Linked DNA regions of Homo sapiens: region 1 is linked to region 2. Evidence: fine-mapped expression QTL. A gene starts in region 2. The other region holds a variant in brackets. All regions are shown on one strand. Distances are from middle to middle.

Region 1 (5,515 bases), 44 kb before region 2:
CGTGGTGTCAGTTCACATGTTCCTCTGTTCTGTGTTGTGGGTTCATGGGCAGCAGCACCTCTGGGCTAGTCAGACAGCCAGACCACTTCAAAAGCCACGCTGGCTCCTTCCCCAGGGCGCTAACGCCCCGTCGCCTCTCCCTCAGCCGCCTTTGGTGCCCAGTGCTTTGCACGTTCCATCCGTAATCACGGCCATGTTGCAGTTTCCAACCCTGTATCACTTTCTGAACTCTCTGAGGCACACGTGGAGTCCTTAGGCTGCTGCCTTTGATTCCTTCCTAACACGCTTCCCAGTTTGCTTCGCCGTTTACACAAATTCCACTCCTCATTCTCTCTCGTCTCATAACAATGTCACCTGTGATTCGACCATTTTCTACTGCTCATTTTCAAGTGCAATTATTTGTTTCTGAACTTTTACATTTTAATTTTTTTTTTTTTTTTGAGACAGGGTCTTGCTCTGTCACCCAGGCTTGAATGCAAGGGGTGCAATCACGGCTCACTGCAGCCTCCACCTCCCGGGTTCAAGCAATCCTCCCACCTCAGCCTCCTGAGTGTGGCTAGGACTACAGGAACACGCCACCATGCCTGGCTAACTTTTATATTTTTTGTAGAGATGGGGTCTCACTATGTTGCCCAAGCTGGTCTTGAATTCATAGCCTCAAGCGATCCTCCCGCTTCAGCCTCCCAACGTGCTGGGATGACAGGCGTGAGCCACTGTGCGCGGCTCTCCTCCTCACTCTCAGAAGGGAGCCCAGTTCAGAGAGCTTTTCTTTTTTCTTTTTTTTCTTTTTTTGTTATTTTTCTTGAGATGGACTCTCGCTCTCTCGCCAGGCTGGAGTGCAGTGGCATGATCTCGGCTCACTGCAACCTTCGCTTCCCGGGTTCAAGCAATTCTCCTGCCTCAGCCTCCCGAGTAGCTGGGACTATAGGTGTGCACCACCACGCCCAGCTAATTTTTGTATTTTTAGTAGAGACAGGGTTTCACCATGTTAGACAGGATGGTCTCGATCTCTTGACCTTGTGGTCCACCCGCCTCAGCCTCCCAAAGTGCTGGGATTACAGATGTGAGCCACCGCACCCGGCCGCAGATCAGAGAGCTTTTCTTTTCTTTTTTTCTTTTTTTTTTTTTTGAGACGGAGCATCGCTCTTGTTGCCCAGGCTGGAGTGCAATGGCGCAATCTCGGCTCACCACAACCTCTGCCTCCCAGGTTCAAGCGATTCTCCTGCCTCAGCCTCCTGAGTAGCTGGGATTACAGGCATACGCCACCACGCCCAGATAATTTTGTATTTTTAGTAGTGACAGGGTTTCTCCACGTTGGTCAGGCTGGTTTCAAACTCCTGACCTCAGGTGATCTGCCCGCCTCAGCCTCCCAAAGTGCTGGGATTACAGGCATGAGCCACTACACCTGACCTCTCAGAGAGCTTTTCTAACTCCATGGCTCCAGAGCCCCCTGCAGTTCGTGTGTGTGTGTGTGTGTGTAGTGCTGAAAAAAAAAAGGTCCCAACTTTCTTAGCTCTGCGTCCTCTGCTCTCTTCTTCCCTTCCATTTTCAGATAACCCACAAACTCAGCCAACATCATGTACCCTCCACCCAAAATACAGATCTTAGACTTTTATCCTACTTGCCTCTGATTTCTCTTTGTTGTTACAGAAACAAACATTCTCCCTCAAGTCGGAGCTGGCTTTGTTCTCCCTCCCTCCCCAGAGCCCGTCACTGTCAGGAATGCCAGGGGTCACACTTTCATTACATACCTGTGTACCTATAACCTAACACACACACGTACACACGTGTATACCTACAACCTAACAGGTACACACGTGTGTACCTACAACCTAACCCACGTGCACACATGTGTACCTACAACCTAGCGCGCACACACCTGTGTACCTACAACCTAACACCCACGTACACACGTGTGTACCTACAACCTAACACCCACACATACAGACGTGTGTACCTATAACCTAACACCCACATACACACGTGTGTACCTACAACCTAACACCCACGTACACACCTGTGTACCTACAACCTAACACCCACGTATACACCTGTGTACCTACAACCTAACACCCACATACACACGTGTGTACTTACAGCCTAACACCCACGTACACACGTGTGTACCTACAACACCCACGTACACGTGTGTACCCACAACCTAACACCCACGTACACACGTGTGTACCTACAACCTAACACCCACGTACACACGTGTGTACCTACAACCTAACACCCACGTACACACCTGTGTACCCACAACCTAACACCCACGTACACACGTGTGTACCCACAGCCTAACACCCACGTACACACGTGTGTACCCACAGCAACACACATACACACGTGTGTACCTACAACCTAACACCCACGTACACACGTGTACCTACAACCTAACACCCACGTACACACCTGTGTACCTACAACCTAACACCCACGTACACAC[G/C]TGTGTACCTACAACCTAACACCCACGCACACACGTGTGTACCTACAACCTAACACCCACGTACACACGTACCTACAACGTAACACCCACATACACACGTGTGTACCTACAACCTAACACCCACGTACACACGTGTGTACCTACAACCTAACACCCACGTACACACGTGTGTACCTACAGCCTAACACCCACGTACACACCTGTGTACCTACAGCCTAACACCCACGTACACACGTGTGTACCTACAGCCTAACACCCACGTACACACGTGTGTACCTACAACCTAACACACACACATACACACGTGTACCTATAACCTAACACCCACGTACACACGTGTGTACCTACAACCTAACACCCACGTATACACCTGTGTACCTACAACCTAACACCCACGTATACACCTGTGTACCTACAACCTAACACACATACACACCTGTGTACCTACAACCTAATACACACATGTGTACCTACAACACACATGTACACACGTGTGTACCTACAACCTAACACACACGTACACATGTGTGTACCTACAACCTAACACCCACGTATACACCTGTGTACCTACAACCTAACACCCACGTGTACACCTGTGTACCTACAACCTAACACCCACGTATACACCTGTGTACCTACAGCCTAACACACGTACACACGTGTGTACCTATACCCTAACACTCACACATACACACACTTCTACACTTGCACAGATGTAGGGTGACCACCATGCTGCTGTACCCAGTACTGAGGGGCTTCTCAGGCCGCAGGACTTTGAGTGCTGAAACTTGGAGAGCCCCATGCAGACCGGGACCTCATGCCGGTGGCCTCAGACCCCTGCTGCTGGTCTGGATTTTGCTTGTCTCCCCTCAGCCTGGGTATTTTTGTGACTGATCCTCATGGGCACCACCAAAGGCTCCATGTTGGACCCATCAGGTTTGAGGCCTGCGGGCTGTCAGAGCAGCACCTCGTGGGAAGCTTCTAGTTCTAAACGCAGATATTAGAAAAGAGGGTGTGAAAATCAACCATCTAAGCTTCCTTTTCAAGAATTAGGAAAAGAACACAGTAAATTAAACCCAAAGAGAGTAGAAGAAAGACATAAAAAAGGTAAAAGTGGAAGTCAACGAAATAGAAATGCAATATTCAACAGAGAAAAACAACAAACTAAAAGTCTTTCTTGTACAATTTAATAAAATTCATTACCCCCAGCAAGACCAATGAGGATAAAAAGAGAAAACACAAACCATCAATATCAGGAGCGAAAGGGAACATCACCACAGACCCTAACAAATATCAAAGCGATAAGAAGAGAACATGATGAACATCTTTACACCAGGGAACCTGACAATTTTGAGGAAATGGACAAATTCCTCAAAATACACAATGGACACAGGAAAAATATAGAAATACCTGAATAGTTGGGCCGGGTGCGGTGGCTCACGCCTGTAATCCCAGCACTTTGGGAGGCCGAGGCGGGCGGATCACCTGAGGTCAGGAGTTTGAGACCAGCCTGGCCAACATGGTGAAACCCTGTCTCTACTAAAAATGCAAAAATTAGCCAGGTAAGGTGCTGCACACCTGTAATCCCAGCTACTCTCCTGAAGCAGGAGAGTCGCTTGAACCCAGGAGGCAGAGCTTGCAGTGAGCCGAGATTGCACCACTGCACTAAGCCTGGGCGACAGAGCGAGACTCCATTTCAAAAAAAAAAAAAAAAAGGTCAGGCACGGTGGCTCCCGCATGTAATCCCAGCACTTTGGGAGGCCGAGGTGCGCAGATCACGAGGTCAGGAGATCAAGACCATCCTGCCTAACACGTTGAAACCCCGTCTCTACTAAAAATACAAAAAAATTAGCCGGGCATGGTGGCGGGCGCCTATAGTCCCAGCTACTCGGGAGGCTGAGGCAGGAGAATGGCGTGAACCCTGGAGATGGAGCTTGCAGTGAGCCGAGATCGCACCACTGCACTCCAGCCTGGGTGACAGAGCAAGACCCCATCTCAAAAAAAAAAAAGGTCGGGCACAGTGTCTCACACCTGTAATCCCAACACTTGAGGAGGCCGAGGCGGGCAGATCACGAGGTCAGGAGATCGAGACCATCCTGGCTAACACAGTGAAACACCATCGCTACTAAAAATACAAAAAATTAGCCAGGTGTGGTGGTGGGTGCCTGTAGTCCCAGCTACTTGGGAGACTGAGGCAGGAGAATCATTGAACCCGGGAGGCGGAGGTTGCAGTGAGCCGAGATCATGCCACTGCTCTCCAGCCTGGGCAACAGAGCGAGATTCTGTCTCAAAAAAAAAAAGAAAAAAAGAAAGAAAAAAATTGACTACTAATAATAATCAATAATATCTCCACTCAAAAATAATTTTAGTGAGTGCTGGGCGCCACGGCTGTAATCCCAGCACTTTGGGAAGCTGAAACAGGAGGATCACTTGAGTCCAGGAATTTGAGACCAGCCTGGGCAACACCCCATCACTACATTTTTCTTTTCTTTTTTTTTTTTTTTGAGACAGAGTCTCGCTCTATCACCCAGGCTGGAGTGCGGTGGCGCGATCTCGGCTCACTGCAAGCTCCGCCTCCTGGGTTCACGCCATTCTCCTGCCTCAGCCTCCCAAATAGCTGGGACTACAGGTGCCCACCACCACGCCTGGCTAATTTTTGTGTATTTTTAGTAGAGACGGGGTTTCACCATGTTAGCCAGGATGGTCTCGATCTCCTGACCTCGTGATCTGCCCGCCTCAGCCTCCCAAAGTGCTGGGATTACAGGCGTGAGCCACCGCGCCCGGCCTACATTTTTCTAAGTTTTTTGTTTTTTGTTTTTTGTTTTTTTTTTTTTGAGGCGAGAGTCTCACTCTGTCACCCAGACTGGAGTGCAGTGGGGCGATCTCAGCTCACCGCAACCTCTACCTCCTAGGTTCAAGCAATTCTCCTGCCTCAGCCTCCCGAGTAGCTGGGATTACAGGCACCGGCCACCACGCCCAGCTAACTTTTGCATTTTTTTCAGTAGAGATTGGGTTTCACCGTGTTGGCCAGGCTGGTCTTGAACTCCTGACCTCAGGTAATCCACCCGC
Region 2 (5,000 bases):
TTTGAGACCAGCCTGGGCAACACAGGGAGACCCCCATCTCAAAAAGAAAGAAAGAAAGAAAAAAAAACCCAAAATAAATAAATAAAATAAAAATTAAAAAAATTTCACTGGGAATTCACTCCTTGCTCAACTGTGCTAGGCAGGCAGGCGCCCCTGTGGGGGCGGGGCCTCGGTGGTCCAGCGGAGGTCAGAGGCCACGCAGGGTGAGGAGCGGGTAGCATATGGTGGGGTGGAAGCAAGGATGAGAGACTGGTTACACAGGAGATAATCAGAGCCAGGTTCCTCACTCCCAAAGCAGGAGGCCCCTCATTCCGAACAGGTTGAGCCCTGTAGTGTTGGCCTGGCATCAGAGTAAACACGTGGTGCCCAAGAAAAACAGACAAACACGCCCATGAAACTGTGTGTATACATATGCGTGTGGGCATGTACATAGATGTGTTCCCTTGCTCCGCCAGCTGCAATGACACCCCAGTAGCAATGAGCACATCCGGAGCCAGATCCCGGGCTCTGCATGACATTCTCCCACAATGAACCAGGCTGCAGCAGAAATAGCTGGGTTCAGGCTGGGGCAGGGAGAATACAACAGGGCCCTGGAGCATCTCGTGCCAGAAAGAAAGGGCTCCAGAAATGATGCGGACAGGTGAAGTGGGAGGGAGAGAGAAGGGTGGCAAGGCGTGGGTTCCCTGTCTGGTGGAGGCTCCCCTAGGTAGGGGGAAGCGCGTGGCACGGAGGGCAGGTGGCGGACGCATCTGGAAGCCGCACTTACTGTGTGTCCACTTTCTCACACAAGCACCATGCACACAAAACAAGAAGGAAAACGTCAGCTGAGAGAGGCGGGTGGTGTCCCAGGGTGTGGAGAGAGTAGAAGGTGGGAAATAGGTGTTGGAGGTGGCATGGCCCCTTGAGGTTGTGGCCCTGGTTGAGGGGAGGCCCAGTGGATGAGGTTGGGTCTCTCTCCCCTTCAGCTGTGCTGGTGCAGGCCTGGAGGAAAACGGACGCCAGGTTTGGTGTGGAAGGGGAGCTCGGAGGCGATGAAGGCCCAGGCAGGTGGAAGGTGGTGGTTGAGGACCGGGGAGCAGGGCGCTGGCTGGGGAGAGGCAGAGTGAAGAAGCCGAGGGTGAGGGGCAGCCGGAACTCAGCTGGAAAGACAGCAGGAGGCGGTGGGCGCAGGGGCGGGTTCCATGGACGTTCTGGAGGCTTCTGAGGACACCAAGCCTGGAAGCCAGGACATGTGGCCTTCTTGACTTCGTTCCCCTTCCTCACCTGGAGGTCTCCAGTCCCCGCTGTCCACTGCTCAGCGGCATGGGAGGAGTCCGCGGCCTTACCCCGACACTCCCGCCCACCGGCCCCCGCCCCTGCCAGGCGGCCCTGCTCGCAGCAGCGCGAGGAGCCACGGGGTGCTGCCCTCCTCCGCAGCCCGAGGCCCACTTCACACGCACTGAGCCCAAGCGCGAGTCTCTGCCCGTCAGCCGCGTCTGAGCTCGCCGCAGTCCCTGCTTGAGAGGCCGGGGGGCACCTGCGCCTGCCCGGGACCCTGACCTGCTAGCGGGGCCTGTTGCCTCCTCTGCAGGAAGCGATCTCGCCCGCGGTGCCCCCACCCGCCCCGTCCCCGGAGGGACCGCCCCCGCCCGCGGCCTTCCCGCCCCTGCCCTGTCGCTTGAGTGCCCCCCGCCCGCCGTTACCCCACCCCCGCCCCTGGAGGAGCCCCCGCCCACGGTTACCCAACCTTACCCTGTCCCCGGAGGGCTCCACGCCCGCGTTCCCCCCGCCCCATCCCAACTCCGAGGGTCCACTGCCCCGGTCCCCATCCCGCCCGGTCCCCGCAGGGCCGGGCCGCCGGGGGTCTCCCGGGGCAGCGGTACCCGAAGGCAGCAGCACGGCCCCTTTAAGCCGCTCGGACACGCGCTCGGGGCCCGATGCGGTTTGGACGCGCACAGGCGTGCGCGTGCCCGTCGGGCCTGGCGAGCGCGCGCGACGCGCGGCGTGCGTGGTGACGCGAGCGCGTGGGGTTTTCCGAGGCTGCGGGCAGGGGCCCGCCGCGCCCATCCCGATGGCTGGAGGCGTCTGAGGGGCGGACGGAGGCGGCGGCGGCGGCGGCGGGAGCGGGAGCGGGCGGCGAGTGGGGAGCGGGGCCGGGAGTGGAGCAGCCGCCGCGGCGGGACTGGACCGAGCCTCGCCGGCGCGCACCTGCCCGCAGCGCCCGCGGAGCGCGCAGCGCGGCCCGAGCGCGACGACCTGCCGAGCGGCGGCCGAGGCGGCGGTGTGGGCGCGTCAGGCCGCGACGAGGGCGCTGAGGTGAGCGCGGCAGCCCCCAGCCCCGGACCCGGGTCCTGTTCGTCCACCCGCCCGCCCTGGGGGCGCCCGCCCCGCCCCCACCCCACCCGCCGGTCGGGGCCGCGTCTTCCTGCCCCGCCCGGGTGCGGCGGGCGGCGTCCGAAGGGGGGGCCGGGGGCTGGGGTCCGAGGTTCGGGGTGCAGGGTCGGGGTCGAGGGCGGGGTCTAGGGAGAGGAGCCGGGGTCCCAGGCCCAAGGCTGGGGGCCGAGTTTCGGCACCGGGGTGCGGGGTTGTGTGCGCCGCGGGCGCTTCCCGTGGCGGCGGCCGGGGCCCCGGGGGCGCGGGTCGGGCGGGGCCGGGCCCTGCGTGGGGAGCCGGACGTGGCTCTCGGGCCCGCGGCGCGAGAACAAAGGCCGGGCGGGCCTGCAGGCGGGGCGGTGTCGGCGGCCGGAGCCCCCGCGCGGGCCGCCTATCGGGGTGACTTTGAGGGCCGGGCGGCCGCGGGGCGCGAGCGTGGGGAAGGGGAACAATGAAATGGGGAAGCCGGGCCGCGCGCCGCGGTCGGAGTAGGGATTTAAAGCGGAAGCCGGGCGCGGCGTCGGGAAATGGGAAAATAACGGTTTCGGCCCTTTTCGCTGTGTCGAGCCGCTGAGGCAGTCGCGCTGTGGCCTCGCCCTTCTCCTGCCGAGGCCCGGGTCTGTCCGGCGCTGGCGCCCCGCGCGTGTCGACTCGAGGGTTGCGCGGACCCCGGCCCGGCCCCGCGAATGAATGGGCCCGGTGGCCGCGCCAAGATGGCGCTCCCACCGCTGCCTTTGTGGGGCGGCCGCCGCCGCGCCGAGTTTCGGGGCCCGGTTTGCGATATTCCGAAGGCCCGAAGGTGGGGGAGAGGACAGGAAATAGCACAAAGGCTGGGTGTCTTCCTCTTGCCTGGATCGGCTTTTCGGCTGGAAGCGGGGTGGGGGTGGGGAGTGGGGAGATCTGTTGAAAATTCCACAGGGCTGTCGGCTGAGGCTTTTGACTTTTAAGAACCTGCTATATTTTTTCTTGTGAATCGATAGTTGATTCAAATGATATTTTAACATTTCTTGTGTCCGTTAAATTACATGGTTAGCATGCAGAAGCAGTATCAGCTTTTGTTTGCTTAATTCATCTTCATGGAAGCCTTTTTTTTTTTTTTTTTTAAGAGATGGGATCTCTTTGTAAAAGAGATCCTGTTAACCAGGCTGGTCTCGAACTCTGGGGCTCAAGCGATCCTCCCGCCTCAGCCTCCCAAAGTGCTGGGATTAGCGGCCTTAGCCACCGTGCCCAGCCTGTCTTCATGGAAGCTTTTTCTTAAGATTGTGAAATGGGCTCCTGAAGGAAAACGCCGATGTTAAAATTTGTGTTTTGAAAAGGGAGTTGGTGTACATTTACAGTTAGGGTGTACAGTACTGGACTTATGGGTAAATAGTGTAGAAATGGTAACCTATGGTTTTCTTTTGGGGAGCATTGGTTCATTGTATTTTCATGTTGCTATCTATCTGATAACATTAGTCTCAAATAGTATTAGGTGATTAAGCAGTTGCTGGTGAGATTATTAATTAAGAAAATATGAAGATTATTTTTCATGATTAGCAAATGGACGTATTAGTTTTGTGGAAAGTTTCAGTGAACTGCATACTGAATAAGGTCTTTGGAGCAAGCATTGTTATTGATAAGGTTTTTGCATAAGTTATTTTCTAATCTGAAGTGATAGTCTTTTGGGAGAGGGAGGAGCTCTTTATTGAAAGTAAGGTTTTAATTTTCATGCTATTGACATGCATAGTCTATTCTGGATTCTTTGGGAAGGTATGTATATCAAGAAAGTGGATAGGCGGTTCCTTCTTTGCTAACGCTGGGTTCGAGGCTGGGGATGGAGGTGGTGCCACTGACATGGAGACAGGTCTGAGAGCCTCCCCAGGGTAGGACTGAATGGTGGGTTTTGTCTTGGTTTATGCTAAGGCAGAACTTTCTTTACTTTTTGAGATGGAGTTTCGCTCTTGTTGCCCAGGCTGGAGTGCAGTGGCGCGATCTCGGCTCATTGCAACCTCCGCGCCCCCGGGTTCAAGTGATTCTCTTGCCTCAGCCTCCCGAGTAGCTGGGATTACAGCTACCACCACCACACCCGGCTAATTTTTTGTATTTTTAGTAGAGATAGGGTTTCACCATGTTGGCCAAGCTGGTCTCCAACTCCAGACCTCAGGTGATTCACCCGCCTTGATCTGCCAAAGTGCTGGGATTACGAGCGTGAGCCACCGCGCCCAGCCGGTAAGGCAGAACTTTCTAACGATTAGAGCTGCGCAGAAATGAACTGCAACTGCAGGGTCCAGAGGCTGATGCTGTCAACCCTGGGGGAAGGCTGGACTGCAGGTGTTGGGCGGTGGTCCCAGGTTACGAGCATTTGGTTTCATCAACACTGAAAGTGCTCCCCCCGCCCGCCTTTTTTTTTTTTTTTGAGATTGAGAGTTTGGAAAACCAGTTAAGTTCTGAGGTGCCTGTGCCCCCTCCCAGTTAAGTGCGCACTGCCCAGGCCCAGTGTGAGGATGACATTTTATCTTCTGCGGGAACCTTTCAAGATGAGTCTTATAGAGGAAACTGTTCCAACATGAAATTTCAGCTCAGAATTGACTTTCTCAAAAGAGCACATCCACTGGCCAAAAGCTATTTCTCTCGCGTAATCTGAATTTATGACAGAACCATAGTTATCT

Alleles and levels. Positions count from the first base shown, and alleles are read on the strand shown. Sizes are in standard deviations (SD) of each study's normalised expression.
With allele C in place of G in region 1, the expression in skeletal muscle of the gene that starts at base 2,028 in region 2 is lower (large effect, 1.0 SD a copy in FUSION).

Evidence for each region. PIP is the estimated chance that this variant, and not a neighbour inherited with it, causes the effect.
Region 1: its variant is the best candidate, but not a certain one, in a credible set for the expression of GNB1 in skeletal muscle (FUSION, PIP 0.71).

The regions. Positions count from the first base shown.
Region 1 is chr1:1,931,832-1,937,346 of GRCh38, reverse strand. The region is part of intron 25 of CFAP74 (cilia and flagella associated protein 74); the gene reads left to right. Among named protein-coding and RNA genes, the nearest start is that of TMEM52, 15 kb to the right of the region's middle. The variant G/C (reference allele first, on the strand shown) is at 2,447.
Region 2 is chr1:1,888,115-1,893,114 of GRCh38, reverse strand. GNB1 (G protein subunit beta 1) reads left to right here and starts at 2,028. Exons shown (of 12, transcript NM_002074.5): 1 at 2,028-2,295. GNB1-DT (GNB1 divergent transcript) reads right to left here and starts at 1,935. Exons shown (of 2, transcript NR_168264.1): 1 at 1,732-1,935; 2 at 389-1,215. RefSeq lists silencers at 1,244-1,493, 1,554-1,653, 1,774-1,963, 2,524-2,713 and an enhancer at 4,016-4,515.